Linked DNA regions of Homo sapiens: all the other regions are linked to region 3. Evidence: fine-mapped expression QTL. A gene starts in region 3. Each other region holds a variant in brackets. All regions are shown on one strand. Distances are between the middles of the regions.

Region 1 (8,171 bases), 43 kb after region 3:
CCTCCTCTGCCTGGCCTGGCTCCTCCCACCCTGTTTACACCTCACCAAGGGCCCAAGCTGTCCCAGAAACCAGAGAGACTGCTCAGGCCAGACTGATCTGCATTCCTCTAGGGTAGTGGGGAGAGGTCAAAGGTCAGGCATCTCTTATGGTGGCCCTGCCCCCACAATACTCCCCGGTCCTCCCTCCCTGCATGCTGGCCCCACTTCTATCTCCTGAACAGGGAAGGGCAAAGTACTGGAACATTCTGGCACGTTGTCCCCTGTGACCTGCTCAGGAGATCCACCAAAAGCAGGGAGGGTTCAGAGCTGTGGGAATGAAACTCCTCCATCCCTTGCTCCCTCCCTCCGCACCCAGACCCTGCTCAGGGCCCCTCCAGGCTGACTGGGGAAAGCCAGACCATGTTTTAGGGAAACTCCCTTCTCCTGCCCCCAGGAGCCCAGATGGGACAGGGCTGGGGTTGTGGGGATAGCAGTACCCTGCCAGTGGTAACCCTCCTCCACCCCCCCAGCTACAGGAGTACTACAAGAAGCAGCAGGAGCAGCTCCACCTGCAGCTCCTCACCCAGCAGCAGGCTGGGAAACCGCAGCCCAAAGAGGTAAGGGGCTGTACCAGGGCCCACCACCGCCCTCACCCCCTGCCCAGAGCTGGGTGTCCAGAGCTGGTCAGGAGGGAATTGCCTTGCAGGAATAGTAGAAAAATCTAGAAAAGGCTGAGGAAGGGGACCAAGGATCAGTGTGGGGGAAATGGGGATGGTGGTTCTTACGTGTCTCCATCTCCCCTCATCCCCATTCATTCTTTCTCTCCTTGCCTCGTGTTGTTGTCTCTGTGCACATGGGTGTAGACAGGTGTGTACGTGTCACCCCCGTGTGTGGTGTCTGCCGGGCCACGCTCATGTGCCTTGTGGTCGCACCATCTTCCTGCCCCCTTGTCTCTTTGTGACCCAGCACCTCAGCCCTCCCCTCCTTGTCCTGCGAATCTCTGAGTCCCTCAGCAAACCACCTCCCCTTACCTCAGCCTGCCCCCAGCTTCTTCCCCTTCTTCTTATGACTTGCCCAGCCACCCCTCGGTCTCCTCTCAGAGCTCCCCAGCCTACATCCCCTACCCCATCGGAGCTTCTATACCAGGCCCTGGAGGCCCTTCTCCCCTGGGTCCCAGACCTGTGCATCTCTCCTGCTGCCCAACCGCAGCCCCAAGCTCTAAGTTTCCTCTTCCCAGAAGGCTGCCCTGACACCCAGGAATTCTCCAGCACCCCCAGTCTCCCCCTCAGCAGTCTTGTAATTGCTGTGTTATCAGCAGGTAAATCTCTAGGCTAAGTTTATCCTGTGTCTCTCTATTGAATAGCCAGCCCCCACCCTACCCCATGCTTCCCACCCCCAGCAGGCAGGCAGAGACATCTCTGCCTCTCAACCCACCCAGGACATGCTTGGCTCATGGGGCTCAAGAGAGACTTGCTGACAGCCTGACTTGTCAGTGCCTGTGTGAAGAACTGAATGGGTGGGGGTAGGTAGAGTGGGTGAGCCAACGAGTACAGGGCGCCTGGGCAGTGGTGATGTGACTGTTCTCCGAGCCTGGGTCCCAGTGAGTCCCGTCAGACTCCTTGATTCTCTGTATCTAAAAAGCAAGAGAGGAAAAGAGCTGGGGGAGAGAAAACTCCCTCCCCAGAGCAGAAGGGGGCACCCCGGGCATGTGGGAAGGGTGCCCTCCAGGCAGGAGTGGCCCCCAGAATCTGACAGGCTCATCGATCATTGTGATGAGGCACCCCCAGGCGTGCACAGCTGCGGTGCAGGGAGCTGAAGCAGCGGAAGGAGGGAGGCGGGAGGAGGGAGGGCGTCGTGCTGCGTGTCTGGGTCTGGCTGTGTGTGTTTGCGCGCGTGCGTGCGTGCGTGCATGCGTGTGTTTACTGCGAGGAGGCATGCAGCCTTATGGAAGCTGGGCCGGGAGCAGAGACACTGCAGCTGCAGACGCCACAACGACAGCTCCAGGGGCTGACAGGCCCTGGGAGGGGGTGGCCGCGGGGTGGGGGCCAGATGGCATGCCTGAAGCTGATGGCACCCCTCTCTGCCCGCCCCCTCGGGCCCCTCACCAGGCACTGGGGAACAAGCAGCTGGCCTTCCAGCAGCAGCTCCTGCAAATGCAACAGTTGCAGCAGCAGCACCTGCTCAACCTGCAGAGGCAGGGGCTGGTCAGCCTGCAGCCCAACCAAGCCTCGGGGCCCCTCCAGACCCTTCCGCAAGGTGAGCACCCGCCACTCCTCCCCTCCCAGCCCCAACCCCACAGCCCTGCCTGTACGCAACAGCTGGCAGCCCCTGTTCTTGGGGCCAGGTAGAAAGCCGAGTGTTCGTGGGGCCCTGCCAGCCTCCCCTGTCTCTCCCACAGCAGCTGTTTGCCCAACAGACCTGCCCCAGCTGTGGAAGGGCGAGGGTGCCCCCGGGCAGCCTGCCGAGGACAGCGTCAAGCAGGAGGGGCTGGACCTCACTGGCACGGCCGCCACCGCTACCTCGTTTGCCGCTCCCCCCAAGGTCTCACCCCCCCTCTCCCACCATACCCTGCCCAACGGACAGCCTACTGTGCTCACATCTCGGAGAGACAGGTACAGGGGTCCAGGCTGGGAGGGGCATCAAAGGCCTGCCTGGGGGTAGACCTGGCCCCCCACCCATGAGGGCTGACTGTGAGGGAGGGGGTGGAGCCCACGGACCGGAGGTTCACTCCCTCTCCACTCCCTCTCCCGGGGTGTACAGATGGTGCTTGGCCGCTGGGAAACCTGTATTGGGGCAGAAATGTCACCAGCAGGGGAGCTGGTGCTCAGCTGACTACAGGGCCGCTGGGGTCTTCAGGGTCCCTGATCGGCCACCTCCCTGCTGTCCTCCCAGCTCTTCCCACGAGGAGACCCCCGGCTCCCACCCCCTGTACGGACACGGAGAGTGCAAGTGGCCAGGCTGTGAGACCCTGTGTGAAGACCTGGGCCAGTTTATCAAGTAGGTGTCACCCCCAGCCCCTCCCCCAGCAGCCTTTCCCCACAGGGCCTCTCCCCCAACCCTGCCCACTAGCTTGCCCCTTCTGGGAGCCCTCCTCACTAGCTGTACTACTGTCCTCACTCCAGAGGGTTCTAGTTCTTTCTCTGCCCCCCACGGACTCCCTGATCACCCACTCCCTACCCTGTCTATATTTCTGGGCCTGCATTCCCCTGACTCCATCCCCAGCGCAGGGTGCGGGTAGGAGAAGGAGAGGACAAACATAAGCATTACTCCTCCCCCCACCCTCCCCTGCTCCCCTCCAGCCTCAGCCCCGGGGAGTGATGGCGAGTGACAGGCTGAGGGCCGCAGACAGGCAGGG[C/T]GGGAGGTGGACGGGCGGCTGGCAGCAGGCGGCCAGCTGCCACAGCCGTGCCAGGCTCTGTCACTGACTGATTAACTCCGCTGTCTCCCAGACCCTTGCAGCATCAGGGTCAAACAAATTGTTTTCACGCTTCGTCAGAGGTTTACTTAATTAGTTCATTTGCAATTAGATCTCTCTGTAGCTGGGATTTTAGCAAAGACATCAAAGGAGGCTGACGAGAAGGGAGAAGCCTTCCTCCATTGCCCCGTTTTTCCACCTCTTTCTCTTCTTTGTATCTCTTGGTCTGTCTGCTTTTCAGGCCATGGGTGGGATTAGAGGATAGGATGGGAGGATGGTGGCAGCAGGGAAACCGGAGCCAACTTTCTCTCCTCCTCTCTTCCCCTTGAAGACACCTCAACACAGAGCACGCCCTGGATGACCGGAGTACAGCCCAGTGCCGGGTACAGATGCAGGTGGTGCAGCAGCTGGAGATCCAGGTGTGGCCCGGAAGATGCTGGGGAGGGACATGGTGGGCTCCAGCCCCTGCCCACCCACAGCACTGACTTGCTAGGTGGGCTCTGTTGGGAGGGTCTCATGGAAGGGTCCTATGGTCAAAGCCACCATCTTATGCTTTCTAGGTCCTAATGACCATGGTTGTGAGGTGAGGACAGCTGGATTCTGAGGGGTAAACCAAGGTTGGGGGCGTCTCTGCTGGGAGGTCCAGAAGAGACTCACGCTACATAGAAACATCAAAAATAATTATTAGCAGCTAACATATGGAGCACTTACTTTGTGCTGTGCTAAATACTTTATATAGCTCAAGGAATCCTCTCAACAACCTTATGTGGTGGGTACCATTATTCTCCCCATTTTCCAGATGGAGAAAACAGGCACACAGAGCTAAAGTAACTTGCCTGTGAGTGGCAGAGCTGGGATTAGAACCCAGGCAGCCTGGCTTTCCCAAGGGAGTATCCCAGCTACTTGAGAGGGGACACTCAGCAGCACAGGGTTCCCAGGAAGCAACTCAGGGCAGCTCCTCTGTGCTTACCCATCTCCCTCCAGCACCTAGCAGAGCATCCTGCTGTGAGAGGGTGGTCATGAGAGACCCATTGAGTTTATGAATGGGGTGTCTGAGCCATTCATCAGTTCCTGCATCTGCATTCAGTATGCAAGGCCCTCACACACAAGTGCCACTGCACAAGGCACAGTGGCCGCCCCCCCGTGGGTGGGTAGGAAGAAGCCTCCCAACATGTAGAGGCAGGGATAAGCTCCAGCCAGGACGCACTGGGAGGGCTCAAATGGTCACCATCCAGGGGAGAAAGGGAGAGGCTTCATGGAGCTGGCAGCCCTTGAGGGGTAGAGCATTGCTGAGGCCTCCCTGGAGCGGGTCACAGAGGGAGCATGGATGCTGAGGCAAGGAGGCGAATGGGGGTGGGAATCGGCGGCCTTCTGAAGAGCCTGGCGGTGGAGGGGTGGGACAACACTGCCTCCAGGGTTCAGCCTCCCGCTCACCTCCTGCTTTGCCACCCTCCACAGCTCGCCAAGGAGAGCGAGCGGCTGCAGGCCATGATGGCCCACCTGCACATGCGGCCCTCGGAGCCCAAGCCCTTCAGCCAGCCAGTGAGTGCTGCTCCCCTCCCCGCCCCTCCCAGAGCCTTCCACAGACCCTGGAGCCTCGGGACCCCCACCCTCGGGCACTGGTCTCAGTACCCTCCCCGTTGCTCACAGCTGAACCCGGTCCCCGGCTCCTCCTCATTCTCCAAGGTGACCGTCTCTGCAGCAGACTCATTCCCAGATGGTCTCGTGCACCCCCCGACCTCGGCCGCAGCCCCTGTCACCCCTCTACGGCCCCCTGGCCTGGGCTCTGCCTCCCTGCATGGTGGGGGCCCAGCCCGTCGGAGAAGCAGTGACAAGTTCTGCTCCCCCATCTCCTCAGGTGAGGGTGGGCTGGGGGCTGCAGGGCGACAGCAGCGTGAGGCTGTTTTTCCCATCTGAGCCCCATATCTGGCTACCTCATCCTCTGCCTGTCTCCCCAGAGCTGGCCCAGAATCATGAGTTCTACAAGAACGCCGACGTCCGGCCCCCCTTCACCTACGCCTCCCTCATCCGCCAGGTGAGCAGGGCAGGTAGGAGGAGGGTGGGGAATGGCACACAGGCTGCTCCCCCAGCCCCCGCCACACCCCTGCCTCCAGGAAGGTCCTGGGGCCAAGCAATGGAGCTGTCCCGCTCCCTCTCACGTGGCGGTCTTCCCTCTCTGCTGTGCGGGGCTCTCCTGCAGGCTGGGCCCTGTCAGCCTGCTGCATAGGGTTATGTGTCTCTGGGGGTGCACACACTGTTCTTCTTACTGACACCCACCGTGGCATTCATGTGCTCATTTCCACGTACACAGCCCGCCATGATAGACTCAGGGTCACTCTTCGTCTCTCTCCTTTGTCTTTCCTCCCTCAAGCCCATGATCTTCATGTCACCAATGTTCACATAGTATTCACACTCAAGCATGAACTTACATCGACACATATGTCCTCCCTGATACCCACACAGGCATGTACACCTTCACACACATTCTTTCTGTCACACACACACTGTGCTTAGGGTACCTTTTGCCAAAATCAGGATAAATTCCAAACAGCCTCCACCCCGTGGACATCTCTCCCAAGAAAGACAGGACTGACTGCTTTCACCCTCGGTGCAGGGCCAGGTACTAAAGGCATTTTCTCTCCAGAAGCAGCTCCAATCCTTCTTGTACAAATACATAGCCCTTGGAGGCTCCTGCCCTCTTTATCCTTGGCCAAGCTATAACCAGCCTGTCCCTCTGAGGGGACCCACCAGCCACCACCCATCTTGTTATCCACACATTTCTGAGCAGGTCTTCTCACAAAGTGAACTCGGGGCTAGGCAGAAGGGAGAGGTACTGGGGGAGGGAACCCAGGGCTGTGACCCTTCGAGGCCCAGGCTGACGGTCCCTTTGCTTGTTCCTTCCCCGCAGGCCATCCTGGAAACCCCTGACAGGCAGCTGACCCTGAATGAGATCTATAACTGGTTCACCAGGATGTTCGCCTATTTCCGCAGAAACACTGCCACCTGGAAGGTGAAGCAGGCCCCTTCCACCTTCTGGGCCCCAGTCACCCTTGGACCTGCCATATCCCATGGAGACCAAGGCTGCCTAACAATTAGTTCCCTAAACCATTAGTCCTGCAGAAACAGCCACCCAAGGGCCCAGCCAGGGCTGCATGCCCACGCCCACCTCAGCAGGGGCTGTGGATTGTTCCATAACCTTTTAATGATCCCTTCCTTCCAGCCTGGTGCTGCCTCCTTTCTGGGAAGCAATCCTTCTCTAGGGTACACCCCCAAGGGCCCCAAAGACGCCAGCCCCACGAGGTAGGGCCTCTAGGAATTGCTAATGCCCAAGCTTGATACAGAAGCCTGGGCCGAATTTCACAGAGACCCTAAGGGTCTGGATACCTTGGCTTAAGGTACATGTTCTGAAGCCTGAGGTGGGGCTAGGAAAGCGCAGGTATAGACACACGGATGGACCAAGAGCCGTGGACCACACATTGGGGCACTGACGGCACTCACAGCCCTCCCCAGCTCTGCCATCCCTGGCAGGAAGATAATTGTCTCCATCCAATTAGTCATTTCAACACCTTCAGCCATAAGTTTTCCTGGGAGAGCAGAAGCAGGCAAGAGGGGGACTCTAGAAAAATGGGAGACAGATGCTGGGGTACTAGGCCATTTATTTTTCTATAGCCAAAAGGGGGGTGTGTGTGTGTGTCTGTCTGTCTGTCTCAAGGTGGGAAGGTGATATCTAAATTGGGAGAGTGGGCGGGGCGGGGGGAAGAAGGAGAGAGTGTTCGCCCCTGCAGGGAAGGTTAGACGCGGGGAAGGACTCCCTCTCAGAACCTTAATTGGATCCCTGGCTCTTGAGTCCCCCTGCTGGCCACTGAAGAAACTGCAGTTAAACGGGCTACCTCCCCCAATCCCACTAGGTTTCAACAAGTGTTACTGAACCCCTCCTCCCCACCAGCGCCCAGGACTTGGTGGGGTCTGCACAGTGCCTGCCTACCCTTTGCCCTGGGATTATGCTAAGTGCAGCAGAAGGGACTGCATCATGACTTTCATATGCTCATACCCAATTCCCAAAGCTTGGGAGAGAAGCTGGGAGGCTGTTGGGACAGCTGCTGTAATTGGCTGTGAGTGATGTCATTTTCTGCCAACCACATTCCTGCCCTCTTTCTGAGCCAGCAGGGCTTGCTTGGGACCACCTGGTCCAGTCTCCAACCTCCAAGTCAGTTCAGATACCAGGTTTTTATAAATGATAGAGTCCTACAAACATAAGGGATGATTATAATTATTACCTAATGTTTAATAAAGCATATTAATCTTTTGCCTTTAGGGGTAGTAATATAGAGCCTCCTTTCCATAAGACAGCCTCCTTTTTGGGGGCAAAGTACTGCTAAGCCACCTACCTTCCTTCCTTCCTTCTGTCTTACCTGTAATGCCCTGCTGCAATTTTCTAATTCTCTCTTCTCTTGAGGTCAGGTTAGGTGACCTGGTTTAGGTGACTTCCTTAAACTACTCAGTGACCATCCTGAAGCCACCCCCCTGATATTCTAACCCTGCCGCCCTTGCCCAGCCCAGCCTTTCACATCTCTGTGGTGTGTTCCTCCTAGTTCTTCACCCCCATCTCCCCTCACCTAGTCTAGGGTCCAGTAAGAAGCATCTGGGCTGGGGAAAGTGAACGACTAAGTGGGTGACTTTGCCAGTTAGCAGTGTTCTGCTGCTGCCTCTGTGCCTGAGGCCACTGCCTGAGCCTTCCTCATGGCACAGCAGAATCCATCCAGCTTGAGGTCCACTTTGA
Region 2 (8,171 bases), 31 kb after region 3:
GCACCGAGACTTGTTTTTCTATTCATAGCAGCTCCCTGTTGCCCTCAAAGCTACAGCTTCATTCTCCACCATCCCAACCGCCCTCCCTGGATGCCATCCGTTATAAGCCATTTGTTCCTAATTGCGGAGATCCTGCTAATGACTTCTGAATGGGGGATGGGGGGAGGAGAGTTCAGCTTCATTAGCGAGACTGAGTTCTTAAGCTTGAGGGGGAATGGGGGCTGGGCTGGAAGAGGGTTTGGTTAGCAAGGCCTTCTGGGTGGCACCAGGCAAGTGACCAGGAGCTGCTGGTGAAAGATCAATCATCATAATAGCGTTCGTCCAGGACCTACTGGGTGCCTGGCAGTGTGCTAAGTACTCCATGTGCACAGTCCCACATGCTGTTCCCAGGAACCCCATGAAGAAAGTATGGGGTTGTTCCAGTTTTGCAGAGGAAGAAACGGAGGCTCAAAGAGATGGTGACTTGCCCAAGGTTACCCAGCATACGGTGGAGCCAGAACTTGGATCCAGATCTCTCTTGACGTCCATGCATGAATGGACAGTACACCTCCCTTAGAGGAAAACTGGACATCATCCCCAAACCACAGAGCTGGACATTTGGTTTTCAGTCCAAGGGGTAGAAGGAGGAAAAAAATGAGGTTCAAGAGGCCAAATGGCTCCCAGTTTTCCACTCTGCCTAAGCCCCCTCTTCCTCCTCCCCTAGGTTTTCCATAATGGCTTCTTCCTGGTGTGGGTATCTGAACACCTTTCTCACCCAGGGCTGTGTTTGGGTATCTCTTGCCCTTAGGGAAGGGAAACTGAGCCCAGTTTTCCCCTGGAGTTTCCTTTCTTGGTCTTCTTCCTCCACCTCCACCATCTTCACTTCCCCTTCTCACTGGAGGGCTGAACACATGCAGATTAGGGGGAAGGCAGATTTGAAGGCCTCGCTGGACTGTGCATGGGATCATGGAGACCCCTCAGTGGAGTAAGCCCTGAGCAGTCAGAGGTGTTTGGACTCTGCCACTTCCTAGCTGTGGAACTTCAGGCCTCAGTTTCCTTGTCTGTAAAATAGGGATATCAATACCTGCTCCACCTAGCTCAATGTTGTGAAGCTTCAATTAAATGTTTGAAAAAGTGCTTTGAAAACTGCAAGGCAAATGTTAGCTGTTAAGTTTAGTGTCAGCCTGTGCCAGCCTCCCGTATTCAGCCTAGACTAAAATGAGTTTTGTGAGTGGGTATCACATGTCTGCTGTGTGCTGGTGGTTGGAGATGGGGGTTCACAGCTACAGTTGACAACATCTGTGCTTTCAAGGAGGCCCCAGTCTGGTTGGCATATTCAAAGAAAGTGGGGCTGGGGATCTGCCGGAGTTAGGACCCATTATTTCCCACGTCTCTCTGAGGTGGGCAGTCCAGTGATCTCCAGGCCGCAGTGCCAGCAGGCAGTGTGAACACATCTGGTGCAGCAGCGTGGTCGATGTGACCCTCCTCGTTCACCGTGTTAACTCGCCCTTCAGATGGCGAGACTCCAGTTAGTGCTGCCACCACCTCTGGGAAGCCTTCCGAGACTTCCCCAGGTAGAAGAAAGCCTTCTCTGACCCCTGGCACTCACCCCCACTTCAGGCTGACTAGTTTCTTATCATTCGTGTTTTGTTTTGTTTTGTGTTTTGTTTTGTTTTGTTTTTTGAGATGGAGTCTTGCTCTGTTGCTCAGGCTGGAGTGCAGTGGTGCCACCTCGGCTCACTGCAAGCTCCACCTCCCGGGTTCACGCCATCATTCTGCCTCAGCCTCTGGAGTAGCTGGCACTGCGGGCTCCCACCACCACGCCTGGCTAATTTTTTGTATTTTTAGTAGAGACGGGGTTTCACCATGTTAGCCAGGATTGTCTTGATCTCCTGACCTCATGATCCGCCTGCCTTGGCTTCCCAAAGTGCTAGGATTACAGGCATGAGCCACTGCGCCTGGCTATCATTCTTTATATTAGAGGCTATCATCACAGAACCTGAGCTGTGAGCCCTGGGGGGGCAGAGGCCACATTCTGTTTCTGTGTATCCCCAGCCCCTAGCCTGGTCCCTGGCACGCAGCAGGTACTTCATAGATGTGAGAAGAGTGGTGAGTGAGGACCCATGTATGAGAAGGAATGGTGGGAAGCTGAGGGAGGGGAGCCTTGGCCAGACCTAAGGTCTTACCTGGCTCTCATCTGGCCTGGTCTTGGCAGGAAGAAGGAAAGGGGTTGTGGGTAGGGGGTGTAGGGGGAGGAAGGGCCTGTCACAGGGAGGGGGAGGTCTCAGGAATGAGACTGCAAGGCCTTGCCATTTTTTTCCTGTAAATCATGTAATTTCATGCTCCAGGGGACCACAAAGTAAGAGAGTCAGTGGGGAGTCAACTCCCCTGGCCACCCCCCACCCCACCCCAGGAGACTGAGCAGGGCTCTGCCCCCAACTGCCCCCAGGAGCCCCTCCCTGCTGTTCCCTCCTGTCCCCCGGGGATCTGGAGTGTGTCATCTCCCCACCCCAACCAGTGTCCCTTTTGGGTCGCCTGGGCTGGCCAGCCTCTCTGAGCCATCTTCTTCCCCTACCCTTGTGCCCTGGCCTCTGACCCCTGTACCCCCTCAACCCTACTCTACCTCCACCTTTGGAGGACAAAGAGCACTTGTCAGTAGACCTGGAGGAGTTTGTAAAAGCAAGGTAGTAGAGGCAGGGGCTCCTTCCTAATGACCACCTGACTCCCTGCCCTTCCTCACCCGCAACCCCCCCCCCCACCCTTCCTCCTCTTTCCGCAGAGCCTTTTGACTTAGAAAGGTCAGATTTCTGCTTTCTGAAGTGAATCTGGAAGAGGAGAAACATCCTGTCCCCCTCTGGAAGCCCAGGGCACTTCTCTGGGTGTGACATCCAGGGAAGGAGGTGGGGTGGGGGTGGCCTGTGAGGAGCACACCAATCTGAGCTCCAGGTTTGCTGCAGGACACCTTCCCGTCAATAGGCCAGTGCATATTTAGTTGCCCTCCTAGGGTAAACTAGATTTAAAGCCTCAGGAGGCTCGGCTGTTTGCACTGATGATGAACGGACGCGAAGGTGGTTGTGTGTATATGCTTGGTACACAGTGGTCACTCTCTTTGCTTGTTGAGCGATGATGGGTGGTGCAGCCATATCCCACCTTAAAAGGTTTTGCCTTGAAGGTGCTTGTGGTGGGGTAGGAGAATAGGGGCCCATACAGAAAAAACAAGTGTATGTGTGGACAGATGTGAGAGAGAGCCACAGGCGGGCGCATTTCGTCTAATAAGTGCGCAGGGCACGAGGCTATGTTGGGGAGAGGCTGGAGGAGGTGAAGTGGAGAATTGTGGAGAGATTAATGAGAGC[C/A]GAAGGGAGTGAATACTTCCCGAATGCCAACTGGATGCCAAACATTGGTCCTTTAATCCCCCTAGTAATTTGGAGATGGGTAGTTTCCCAGTTTTGCAGATAAGGAGACTGAAGTGCAGAGAACTGGAATAACTTGCCCAAGGTCGCAGCTGGCAGGCCGCACAGCTGGGATTCAGACCCAGGACTGCCTAAGGTTGGAGCCCTGTGTCAAGGGCTTAGACACACCTGCACTGGCTCCCAAGGGGGTCTTGAGCAATCTGGAAGCAGATAAATTTTGTGCTGCTGAAATGTGGATTCAGAACTTGCCTTCAAACCTCCCACTGAAGCATAGTGAGGACATAGAGGGCTTGACTGGCCTCATAGATAATTTCCTGGGCCCTCCTGACCCCTCACTCCTACCAGACGTCTCACTGCCCATCAGTTTACCTTCCGGGCCCCTCCTACTCCTTGACTGTCACACTGACCCACTGGAGTGATTCCTCCAGCAATCTCCATATGCCTCCCACTCGTATGACCCCTCTGGCTCAGTTCAGTCTAAGCCACTGTGGCCACCAAGCCCACAGCACGATGGTCCATGCATCTCTGCTGATAGTATACCTTTCAGAACTTAATCTAATTCCTCCAGCAGCATGCATGTACAATCCTTGAACTCAGAAAGTCACACGGTACTCAGACCTTGTGCCACTGACCCCAGGGCTCTTCCCTCATCCTCCCAACTGTGTGCTCTGGCTCCACAGTGAATGCTACTTTTTAGCCCCCAGACTGACCACCCAGTAAGGCAGTTGGCCTTGGAGCCAGGCTTCCTGGGCTCAAATCTTGGCTCTGATGCCGCCTAGCTGTATGATCCTGGGTAAGTTACTTAACCTCCTGGAGACTCCGTTTCCTCATCTGCAAAATGGGGCAATAATCCCTACCTTACAGCCTTACAGAGGAAGATTAAATAAGCTCTTGCCTGTACAGTGCCTGACCCATAGTAGATGCTCAACAAATAGTACTGATTTACTAATGCCCTGAGTCAACCCCCTTTATTTTCCTCTAAGAGTCCCTTTTTGACCATGGGCCCTTCCATTTGCTGTCCCCATTGAGTCCTAACAAAACTTCACTGGGTCCCAGGCTGAGTCTGTAGAGGCTCTGATCCCTGAACCCCAACAGCTCTTCTCAGTGACTTCTACTACCCTTACCCCAAGCCCTTATGGACCCATGACCCTCTCACCCCCAAGACCTTCCACCTTACCCTGATCTCCTTCTCCTTACTGCCCCAAACACTCCCTAATCCCTGGATCCCACCCAGCCTCCCAGGCCATTGCTGACTCAGCCCCTGTCTTGCAGGCTCTCCAAGTGGCCCGGCAGTTCCTGCTGCAGCAGGCCTCAGGCCTGAGCTCCCCAGGGAACAATGACAGCAAACAGTCTGCCTCTGCTGTGCAGGTGAGGAAGAGAGCACCCCGCTGGCTCTGGGTTGGGCTGGAGTGTGGGCCTGGCACAGAGGGAGGGCAAGGACCCGTTGGAGAACTGCTCTTGCCAGTTCCAACACCAAAAAGTGGGCAACTTTTCAAAGGAAATACAGTCACTGCAGGGGTGGGGCAAAAAGGCTTCCCACTTTCTCTCGTCTCCACCTGATCAGCCAGACCTTCCGCTAGCTTAGCCTCTTTGTCCCTGTCACTCAAAGTTTGTCTGCAGCTCTCCCTGTCTCTTTGTACCTCTCTCACTGTTTGTTCTCCCCTGCCTCTTCCCTTCAGGGTCTCTCTTGGTCACTTCTCATGTTTCTGCGTCCCTGTCGGTCACTCCCTCTGTCCCTCTGTGTTCCTGTGTCTGGGGCTCAGCCCCTCCCAGGCCATCTCTGTTGCTGCAGTCACGTCACCAAGTCCCCCCTTCTCTTATCCTCCCCCCTTATCCCTCATCCACCAGCTCTCTCGCAGTCTCTCCATGCTTCCTGTCTCTTGATGTCTCTCTGTCTCTTTTGTTTTCCTTTGCACAATCTGCCCTTTTTTCCCCTTCTCCCTTCCCTCCAGCTTGCCAGCCCATCTGGCTGGCTGGGGGAGGGGAGATCTGTGGGGGGTGGGCGGGGGGTGGGGGAGCCAGGCCTTCTGTTTACCTTTTGTGTCACAAAGAACTTGGGAGAATTGCAGTCTGAGTCCGGGTTGGGTCACTACTCGGGCAGCCACTCCCCTCCCCCTCTGCCCAGCAGCCCGGGATCCATGCTCCCCCCACCCCTCCCCCAGCAGAGGGAGGCTCAGAATTGGGGAAGGGATTAAGCCAGGCTTTGAAAGGAAGTTTATCTAAGGGAAGAAGGGTGAGTATGGTTGGTTCTGAGCTGGAGGTGCTCTGGAGTCTGGGGCTGGGTGCTGAGGGAAGTGAAGAGGAGGGTGGGGTGGGTGCAGGGTGCTCAGAGAAGGACCCAGGACCAGGCTTTGTCCTGGGTGGAGATTCCAGTGCTCTGACAAAGTCTGAGTTTTATGTAAAACAAGTTTATGTTTGGAAAAAGTTCAAGGTGCCCAACAGATGTGCAGCCTTAACAGTAACCCTCTTAAAATTCTTGACCCTAAGGAGACAACCCTCAAAGGGGAGGAGCTGGGCAAAGATCAGGGCGTGGCCTGGGGTGGAGGAGGGGAAGACACAATCTGGAAAGTCAATAAAGAGAGGAAGAGAAAGATCTCATCAGAATGAGATCTAAAAGGTTCTCATACCCATGCTGGTCAGGATTGGGCCTCTTTAAATTAATGATCCCCACATACAATCCCAGGGTTTGAAGTGGTCCTTGGGCTTCCACTCTGAATCCTGCCCGCCCTGGACCCAGCTTAGAACAGGAAGGAGTAGGCTGGACAACAGCAAACGTTCCCCCAAACCAGAAAGGGGCTGCTGACCCAGGGGTAGGAGGGTAGGAGCTTGATGGTAGTGGGAGGGACTGGGGTAAGACATCTAGAAGGACTGCTCAGCTGGGGATTAAGGGTCACAGATCTGAAATAATTGAGAGCTGAAGGGAGACTATGGAATCTTCCTTAGGAAACTCCCTCCCTCCAAAATAAGAGAGGCCTAGAGGTTTCAGAGTCAGAAAGACAGATAAAATGATGTTTTTCTCAGGCCTTCTCTCTCCTTGTCTCATTACTTCCAAAAATTCATTGATTGATTCATTCATTCATTCAACAAATACTTACTGAGTACATCCCAAACTAACAACTGACATATACAGAGTGCTTACCATGAAGTGTAGACACTAAGCGCTTTACAGCTATCTCATTTATCCTCACAGTCCTATGGGAGAGGTGCTATTCTAGCCCCATCTTGCAGATGAGGAAACTGAGGCCCAGAGAGGTTAAGAAAGTTGTCCAAAGTTATACAACAAATAAAAGACAGAGTGAGGATTTGAACCCAATAGCTCCAGAACTCACACTTTTTTTTTTTTTTTTTTGAGATGGAGTCTCTTGTTGCCCAGGCTGGAGTGCAATGCCGTGATTTCAGCTCACCACAACCTCTGCCTCCCGGGTTCAAGCAGTTTTCCTGCCTCAGTCTCCCAAGTAGCTGGGATTACAGGCATGCACCACCAAGCCCAGCTAATTTTGTATTTTTAGTAGGGTTGTATTTTTAGTAGGTTTTAGTAGCGTTGTGTTTTTAGGTTTTCTCCATGTTGGTCAGGCTGGTCTCAAACCCCCAACCTCAGGTGATCTGCGCGCCTCTGCCTCCCAAAGTGCTGGGATTACAGGCGTGAGCCATCGTGCCCGGCCAGTAGAACTCACACTTTTAATCTCTGCATTGTGACGATCCCTTGTGCTTGGCACAATATTGGTAATAATGCCAATATTTCCCTGGTGTAGAAGCCTAGGCCAGATGGTTCTCAGGGTCTCAGGGATATGGGGGTTCTTGGGGCCATGGAGCCATGCTTCCCCAGGAGCCTGGATTCCCTACCTATATTGATCCCTCTATTTCTTCTCCAACCCTGAATACCTTCCTTGCCTTCTGCCCCTATTCCTAAGTTTATTATCTCCAAGGAGGTCAGATCCTTGTCCTGAAGTAGGGCCCAGGGCCTTGAAATGTTCTTCTATGAGCTCAAGATTGGTGAGGGGATAGGGGAGAGCAAGGACTGGGCTCCCCACCCGAGCAGAAGAGTGCATCTTGAGCCTGAGTGCAGTGGATAATGAAGGGAGATCAAGCGCAGCTCCTTTCCCAGGGCTCCCCACAGAACGCTGCTCTGCTCCCCAGCAGGATTTTCTGCCCACGCACCTCCCAGCCACGTTCACCATCCCTCTCCTCCAGAGCCAGCTTCAGAAGAGTTTCCAAAACTATTGTCAGGTCTCCAGCTCCAGCCTAGTGAGGGGCCCTCCTTCCAGGCCTGGACCCCACCAGGGAGAGACCTATCATAGAAGGCAGCACAGGTGGCCGAGAGTTGAGGACATGATGGGGGCAAAGGTGGCTGGGGCCTTGGCTTCGTCCATCCCCATCTGGCATTTTCAGAAGTTCTTCTTTATATCTCACTGCTATCTTTCCTTGCTGCAGCTGCAGCCCAGGATTAGTTTGAGGACTTCTGGTCATTTGCAGGAGAGTTTAAGCCAAACCAAACTCTGGCCTGATCTCCCCACATTGCCCCCCACTCACAGGGACCCCATACTCAAGAGACAATTTGGGTTCTTGACCCTGGCACCAAATTGCATTCGTTCCCACTCTCAGCCCTCAAATAAGCTTCCTGTGTGTCAGGCACTGTCCCTGTTCCTTCCAGTCAGACCGTCCAGCCGAGCACGCTGTATTCATGGGTGGGTGCAGGGTCCCTGAGGGAGGGGCTGGAGGCAGCTGCCGGCGTTTGGCCCAGGGCTCACACTGCCAGGGCTTAAGTTAGCACTTAGCTGCCCA
Region 3 (8,171 bases):
AAGAAGGAGAGTCACAGAAAGGCCTATATTAGCAATGATTTTTACATGTTTCACTTTTAAGCATAAAATGTATAGCTCAATTAATGTTTACAAAGTGAACACATGCATGTAACCAACTCCCAAATTCAAAAAGACCCCCAGAAATCCCCTTGTGCCCCTCCGTCACACCCCCACCTAAAACAGCCATGCTCCTGAGTTTTAATGCCATCAATTCATTGGATTGGGTTTTGAATTTCCTATCAATGGAATCAAACGGTGTTTTCTTTCGTGTCTGGCTTTTATGCTCAACGTTGGATTTGTGAGATTCCTCCATGTTGTTGCTCGTGGCAATGGTTTGCTCATTCTCATTGCCAAGGACTAGCCCACGGATGAGAAGACCGTGGTTTAGTCACCTATTCCATTGTTGACAGCTGTTGTGAATAGTGAGCACATGCGAGTAGATGGCCTAGCATTCTGGTGTATGCCTTTTGGTGAACATATGTACATATGCATTTTTATTGGCATATACTTAGGAGTGGAGTGGAGTGGAGTTACTGTATTATGCTGATAAAGTGGGTTTTATTTTTGTTTTTTGTTTTTTGAGACAGAGTTTCGCTCTTGTTGCCCAGGCTAGAGTGCAATGGCACGATCTCAGCTCACTGCAAGCTCCACCTCCCATGTTCAAGCGATTCTCCTGCCTCAGCCTCCTGAGTAGCTGGGATTACAGGCATGTGCCACCACACCTGGCTAATTTTGTATTTTTAGTAGAGATGGGGTTTCTCCATGTTGGTCAGGCTGGTCTCAAACTCCCAACCTCAGGTAATCCACCCACCTGCCTCGGCCTCCCAAAGTGCTGGGATTACAGGCGTGAGCCACCACACCTGGCCTATGCTGATGAAGTTTTATTCCTCAATAACTAAAAAATAGTTTTTGGCCAGGTGTAGTGGCTCATGCCTGTAATCCCAGTACTTTGGGAGGCCAAGGCGGGCAGATCACTTGAGGTCAGGAGTTCGAGACCAGCCTGGCCAATATGGCAAAACCCCATCTCTACTAAAAATACAAAAATTAGCAGGGCATGGTGGCATGAGCCTGTAGTCCCAGCTACTCGGGAGGCTGAGGCAGGAGAATTGCTTCAACTCAGAAGGCGGAGGTTGCAGTGAGCTGAGATTGTGCCATTGCACTCCAGCCTGGACAACAGAGTGAGACTCTGTCTCAATAATAATAATAATAATAGAAACATAAACTGTCTGGGCTTAGGTTTGTTGGGACCATGGGAATGAAGCAAATGTTTCTAGATGTACACACCACTACCACCCCAACCTACTCCTGAGTATCAGGCCTGCTGCTAGGAACAAGCTCATCCATCAGCCCACTTCACCTCCACAATAGGGTGGCGGCTGACCTTGGGAAAGGGCGTCTGCTTCAAAGCAGGAGACCTGGGAGCAAGTCCTCGCCACACTACTTCCTAGCTATGTGAACTGAGCAAGTCATTTGACCTCTCTTAGCTTCACCTGCAGAAGAGTCACCATTGCTGGGGTGATAAGCTGAACAGCACGTTATTCGACTGCCTGGCAAGCATTTAATAAGTGGCAACTCATGATTTGCAGTTTTGTGAGGTCAGCATTCGTCATTTTAAGTGAGGACCCTGGAGCTCATCAAGGGGAAAATAAGTAATTATGGAAAGCATGTGAGGAACACATTACCAGGCTAGAAGTTTTGCCCATCCTCCCTCCCAAACACCCAAGGAGGCCTCCCAACCTCCCAATTGATGAGTGAGGTGATGAGTGAGTTAACTGAGACTCAAACATCATGTAACTTGCCTGGGTCACACACTGGTTAAGTGACAGACGCTGAAGTTCAACCCAAGGCTGCCTGACTCTAGCCCCTGTGCTCTTAACTATGGCCCCCCTGGAGGGGCCAAGCCATGAGCCTTGGTTCCGGCCACCGCCAAAGCACCTGCACCTGCCCTGAGTCCTGTGAAGGAACAAGGACAGAAAGAGGACCCTCCTGCCTGCTCCCGGTCACTCCCACTTTGGAGCCAAGGGCTACTCTTTTCAACCTTCTTAACGAAGCTCTTGCACCAGGAAGAAGGGCTTTGGACTGGCTTCTTTGATTTCGGGGCATTTGTTCTGTATCTTTCTTTGGGGAGGCTTTGTCTTCCTCGCTAAAATGCCCTTTAGGTGAAGACAAGACAGGGTCTTTTGATGCCTTGAGCCCCCACTGTAGCTCACAGGGAGCTGGGAACTGAACTGGCCTGGAGATGAGGGGTAAACTGAACTGAAAGTGAAGCATTTCCCAGGGCAATCCCTCTGGGCAAGTGAGCCCATGTGTAAGGTACAAGGGCTGCTGCAGGAAGGGGATGGGAAAAACATTCAGTGAACCAGCCAGAAAAGGGCTGGAGAAGCCCCTCGGAGGTCACCTCATTCAATACCCCCCTACAGAAATTCTCTCTTTTGTCTCCAAAGCCCCTAGTTCTCACCCCACCCTCAGCCTTTGCTGCAAGAAGGATAGGAAGGAGAACTGAGGACATAGTCACTGGCCCAGCTGGTCTGACACAAGGACTTGCCACTCCAGGCTTGGCCTAGGGCTGTCCACACACCATGATTTCCACCAGAGCTGGGCCTCAACAGAAGGTAAATCAGATAGTACTACCAAGGGCTTTCTTTCTCCCAGAATATCCTTCCCCTCAGCTAACCCACAAGCAGGCAGTGTCGCTTCAGAGACCACCATGAGCTTCTTTCTTGTCCTCACTGAAGTGGCTCTAGTTGGAATCTGGCTCATCACTGACCAGCAGCTGTGTAAGCCTGGGCAAGTTACTTGATCTCTTTGTGCCTCAGTTTCCTCTTCTATAAAATGGAGATAATACAAATATCTCCCTCCTGGGGTTACTGTGAAGATTAAATGGCTGGTGGGTGGTACGACTCAGATGTTAGCTGTTATTTTATTCTTATGGCTATGGTTATCTCAGTTGCCACACTGGAAAGGACACTGAGATATCCACATAAATGGCACTTAGAGTCTTCCCTGCACAATTTCACACCTAGAAATCTAAAACGCTCCAGCAGGACCTAAGTATGCCTGTCCCACCTGCCCAAAAAGGCAAATACATAAAATGTGGACCTGTGCAGGTGTCACTAACATTGCAGAAAAGGGACAGAAGTGATGAAAAACAACCCAAGAGGGTGCCTCCTCTCTGAGGTCCCCTTTTCTTTCAAGGACCACTGGAACGGCCAAGAAATCCCCTCCCCCCAGGCAACTAAGCATCAATCCTTGCAGCTCCGACCCCACACCTCAGGCTTCCAGCTCCCACTCCACAGGGGCTCACATACTATGCCAGCCTCTTGTCCACCTGCCTGAGGATTTAGGGCCAGGAGAGGCTTCAAGAGCCACTGTCTTCTTGTCCTGATCCCACAACAGGATCCTCCCTTGGTCATGGGGACCCGGCATCACTGAGCTGGGTTGGGGTACTTCATGAGGACCCCTGAGGCCTCCTTCACTTCTCCCCACCCCCAACACATGCAGACAGATGGGAGATGTTTCCGGCGTGTGTGGGGCGGGGAGGGGGACGGGTATTGAGATTTCCACGGGACTCTGAGTGGTGCGTCTGCTAACAACACAGCCCTCCCCCTTGGGCCGTGGGCATTTCCTCACCCAGACCTCCCCCTCCCAACCCAAACACACCATCGCCGCCACCACCACAATCCCTCCAGTCCCCCTGGGCAAAAGCGATGTTCAGAGACGCGGGGTTTTGTTTACAATCTAATTTGTCCGGATAATTGCCTCAACTTTGCACTTCACTTTGCCCGCATGGCTCTGGCCTTGGGCCCCTTCTTCACTGGTTCGCAGAGCACTTTACGGGAAATTCCCTTTCCGCAGAGGGAGGCAGTGCGCGCCAGGGGGTGACCGTTCACAAAGCCCTGAAGGGGCCTCCCCACCTTCTACCCTCGGCTCAGGAAGCCCACCCCCAGCCCCCACGCAGTGGGGAGCAGGAGGGAGGCCAGACAGGGCCCGGGCCTGACACTGGCTCCGTCTCTGGGCCCCCGGCCACTCCCCGCGCCGAGCGCAGCCCGCCGGGAACCAGTGAACCGTGTGGGATCAGGACTTGGCCGTACCTTCAGACTCCAGGGGATGGCCGGGGTTTGCAAGCGCCCCATAGGATTAGTCCGAGGCCAGGGTGAATCCCTGGGGTCCCTCCACCTACCATCTTTTTCAGATCTGCCGCCTCACGTCTTCTCCCCACGTTCCCATTTTTCCTCCCCTAAAGTTTGGTGCACGTGGTTTTCTCTCGCTCTCAGCGGGCTGCCAGGCGGGGTGAAAGTTGCTGCACCTGCTTTAGGCGAATTATGGTAGCACTAGAAGTTGGTCTCCCCTCCCTCCGCCGCTTGCTCTCTCGCTCCCTCCTCCCTCGCTCTCCGCGCGCTCCCTCCTTCCCTCTCCACCCTCCTCCTCCCCCGCCCCCTCCCGCCCCGCCCGCGCGCCGCCCGCTCGCAGCCACTCGCAGCCCAGGCTCAGTCGCAGCCCCTCGGAGTCCGGAGCCCGCCGTCCCTGCGGACCGGACAGTGCGGCCGGCGGCCGGCGGCCGGGACGGAGCCCCCAGCCCGCGAGGAGGGCGCGGCGCAGGCGGCGGCGGCGCGGCGGGGAGGAGCCCGGGCCGGAACCAGGGCTGGGCCGGGGGCGGGGACGCCGGGGTCCGGGAGCCCGGGAGCCGGAGCGAGCTGACGAGCGTCGCGGAAGGACCGGGAAGGAAGAGCGGAGCCGGAGCGAGCCAAGCAGCCCACAAAGTGCCATGCCCCGGCGGGGTTGAGGCGCGCGGCGGTCGGCCCGGCGCGCTGGGAGGACGCCCGGGAGCTGCGCGACGCGGGGCGGCGCGGAAGGGCAGCCCCGGCGGGCGGCGGCGGGCCCGGGCTGCGACCGGAGCGAGCCCCATGCCCCGCGCGGGCTGACGGGCCGGAGCCCGCACGGAGCGGCCGGGCGGGACAGGTAGGTGGCGGGTCGGGCCCAGGGACGTGGGTGGGGGCTGGGCGGGCGACCAGACCAACTCCCTCGCTCGCGCACTCTCTCGCCCGCTCGCTGGCTCACTTTGTGTTTGCAAACTGCCCGCCCGAGACGCGCTGGGCGCCGGGCGCCAGGAGGAGCCGGGCCCGGGCCGGCGCACTTTGTTCCAGCCAGGGCCGGCCGTGGCGCACTGACCCCGCGCAGCCGCGACATTCCGCCCCTGGCCCGGGCCCCAGCGGGCCGGAGCTGCCTCGGGAACAGGTGGGGGCTGTGGCGCGGCGGGAGTGGGGGCAGCCGGAGGCCGGGGCGGGGAGGGGGGCGGCCGGAGAGGCCACCGAGGCCCGCCCTTCCCCAAGAATCTGGGCCCCGCCCCCTCCCCGCCGGGCCTCTGGGAATGGGGTGTACGGGGGCGCGACCCCCTCCCCGCCCCGAGTCAGACAAAGAATACTTCCCGGCCCAGACTTTCCAGAGCTGGGAAGGGAAGTGGCTCCCCCCAACTCTAGTCGGTACCGGACTCCCCAGGACGCGCCGGAGACAGATGAAAATGGGGGCAAGAGAGCGGGGGATCGCGGTCCTACCCGCCGTGTCGTCTCTGGTGAAGAGGGGACTTGTCTTGCTGAGGTCGCACCTCGGAAGTGCCAGGGCCAGTCAGCCCCTTTTCCATCGCTCGGTCAGCTCGGGGATAGAGCGGAAAACTTCTTGGGGACTTGAGAGCGTCTGGAAATGGCCCCTGTGATTTGTGCGCCGGAGGTGGAGGGTGGGGAAACGATCTGGCTGACACCTCTACTCACCCGCTGTGGAGAGAGCTCCCGCTTCACCACTTAAGGGGGGAAGAGAGGGCGGCCACGGGGGCCCGGAGGCCACCAGGGAAGGAGCCCGGAGTGACCGAGCAGGACCCCCCCCCGCCCCAACTGAGGAGTCTGGTATCTCCCCTGGACAACCCCAGCACCTCTCTGACCGGCGGCGCTTCAGCCTCGGGCTCCTCATCCACGCCAAACAAACTTCCTTGGGCTGCGTCAGAGCACAGCCAGTGGCGCTAGAATGCGACCTGGGGTCCCGGCCGCCCCCATAAAGGACCGGGTAATTTCGCGGAATGCGGATTTTGAGACAGGCCCAGACGGCGGCGGATTCCCTGTGTCCCCCAACTGGGGCGATCTCGTGAACACACCTGCGTCCCACCCCGATCCTAGGTTGGGGGGAAAGGGTATGGGAACCCTGAGCCCAGAGCGCGCCCCGCTCTTTCCTTTGCTCCCCGGCTTCCCTGGCCAGCCCCCTCCCGGCTGGTTTCCTCGCTCACTCGGCGCCTGGCGTTTCGGGCGTCTGGAGATCACCGCGTGTCTGGCACCCCAACGTCTAGTCTCCCCGCAGGTTGACCGCGGCGCCTGGAGCCGGGAATAGGGGTGGGGAGTCCGGAGAACCAAACCCGAGCCTGAAGTTGCCATTCGGGTGACTCCCGAGAAAGCCCGGGAGCATTTTGGCCAATGCGGGTTTTTACCTGAACTTCAGCATCTTCACCCCGGTTTCGGAGACCTGCCTAGATTCGTCCCAGCACGCACTGTTTCGGGTTCGGGATTGAGGGTTAGGGCAGCACACACAGCTTGAGGGGCAATTGTTAGGACTGGCCCGAGTGCCCGCAGAAAGAAAGAGCAGCGGGGTTGTCGTATGGCCTGTAGCTGCGGGAAGGTCTGTGCCGGTCCCACTGTCGAACCCAGAAGCTCACTTTCCACAGAAAACCAGGGCTGAAGGGCCCCCTGACCGCCATGCCCTGCGGGCACCGGGCATTTTGAGCTCTCCCCCACCCCCTCCCCCTGCTGCGAACCAGCCGGTAGGTGCAGGGGCCGAAGGCCAGGCCCAGTGGACCCAGCCGCCTGAAGGGGAGCCACGGCCTCAGAAAACCTCTGCCCGCCCCCGCGGAAAACCGCTGTGGGGAAGTCTGAAGGCCTTTTTTTTTTTTTTTTTTTTTCAACTTGAGAAACTTTTGCCTCGGGGTTTTGGGGCTCTGTTACCTGGTGGCTGGAGGGAGGATACTGGGGCTCTGCTCTTGGTACCTGGACAGCTTGTTGGCTCCCATGGTGCCCTTTCGATCTGAAACTCAAAAAACTGTGAGTTGGGGGAGTCACTCACACTCTAGTCAGTGGGGCAAGGTGGCAAGGGGAAGAGGTGGTTTTGTGGTTGCCCCCTCTCAGCCTCCACACCCAGGGCCAGGGTGAGCGCTGAATCTCTCCTGCGGGACGGGACCCTCAGGACCCACTTTATCCTGGCTCCAGCCTTGCTACTAAGTTTGGGAGACCATGGGAGCCTTCTCTCCTGGCACCAAGGGCTGGGCGCCTGGGTGGAGTTTTCTGTCCTTCTCCCTGTCCTGGACAGGTTTCCCAGGAGTTACGGAGTTGGGGAACCCCTGAGCCCTGGAGAGAGAAAGACCTGACCCCAGTGCTGGAGAACGCCAGGGCCAGAGCATTTGCAAAGGGTCCCACTTGCAAAGGGACCTGCTCCTGTCCCTTTCTGTGTAGGGATCTTCCTCACACCTAGACGCCCCCAGCCCCCTTCCTCTGCCTTTAGAGCCGAAAACTTCCGTTCTGGCTGTAGGCAGGTAGGTCCCTTCTTGCCAGGAATGTGCATATCCTGCTGGGCCCCTACCCCAAACATACCTCTTCCTTGGTGGGAGGGAAGCAGAGGGACTGGGAGAGGAAGGCTTGCTTTTGATCCAGTAATTCCCCCAAATGTTTGCTGAGCCCCTACTCTGCCTGGGCAGGTCCCAGGCTGAGTACTGGGGTACCCAAGCAGTGAAGGCTGGGGTCTGCTGTCTGGACCTCAGATTGTTGGGGTAGGAGAGACAGATATCACATGGTGGGGGGGAGGGTGGAGGGGAGAAGAATGGGAACAGGGTGTCTGTTTCAGAGGAGAGTTGTGAGGTGCAAGGGGAGGGAAGGGTTGTCTCCCCAGGAAGCCTTCCCTGCATCTTAACCCTTCCTACCCCACTGCCTTGGCGGTTTCCTGTCTCTCCAGCCACAGTGCAAGCCCCCCAGTCCCATCCTAAGCAGGCACAATGTCTTTATTTTTTGAATAGCCTAAACTGTGTGAAATAATAATTTCTTCCATCCAAGAAACTCCTCACAGTTTCCCTTCTCACAGATCTTACCACGCTCCAGCTTCCCTAGACCAAGGCAGGGCAGGTACTATTTTTGACAGGACTCTCA

Alleles and levels. Positions count from the first base shown, and alleles are read on the strand shown. Sizes are in standard deviations (SD) of each study's normalised expression. Not every link is listed here.
With allele C in place of T in region 1, the expression in prefrontal cortex of the gene that starts at base 4,473 in region 3 is lower (small effect, 0.31 SD a copy in ROSMAP).

Evidence for each region. PIP is the estimated chance that this variant, and not a neighbour inherited with it, causes the effect.
Region 1: its variant is fine-mapped to the expression of FOXP4 in prefrontal cortex (ROSMAP, PIP 0.92).
Region 2: its variant is fine-mapped to the expression of FOXP4 in esophagus mucosa (GTEx, PIP 0.99).

The regions. Positions count from the first base shown.
Region 1 is chr6:41,584,922-41,593,092 of GRCh38, forward strand. It overlaps FOXP4 (forkhead box P4), which reads left to right. Exons shown (of 17, transcript NM_001012426.2): 5 at 510-596; 6 at 2,088-2,235; 7 at 2,378-2,591; 8 at 2,872-2,976; 9 at 3,723-3,810; 10 at 4,850-4,933; 11 at 5,042-5,249; 12 at 5,350-5,426; 13 at 6,300-6,401. Among named protein-coding and RNA genes, the nearest start is that of MIR4641, 9.7 kb to the right of the region's middle. RefSeq lists enhancers at 1-503, 8,058-8,171. The variant C/T (reference allele first, on the strand shown) is at 3,335.
Region 2 is chr6:41,573,325-41,581,495 of GRCh38, forward strand. It overlaps FOXP4 (forkhead box P4), which reads left to right. Exons shown (of 17, transcript NM_001012426.2): 3 at 4,662-4,757. Among named protein-coding and RNA genes, the nearest start is that of MIR4641, 21 kb to the right of the region's middle. RefSeq lists enhancers at 5,053-5,676, 5,677-6,299. The variant C/A (reference allele first, on the strand shown) is at 3,333.
Region 3 is chr6:41,541,909-41,550,079 of GRCh38, forward strand. FOXP4 (forkhead box P4) reads left to right here and starts at 4,473. Exons shown (of 17, transcript NM_001012426.2): 1 at 4,473-4,959. FOXP4-AS1 (FOXP4 antisense RNA 1) reads right to left here and starts at 6,713. Exons shown (of 2, transcript NR_126415.1): 1 at 6,470-6,713. RefSeq lists silencers at 2,483-2,777, 3,820-4,089, 4,420-5,099, 5,170-5,349, 5,640-5,789 and an enhancer at 4,160-4,269.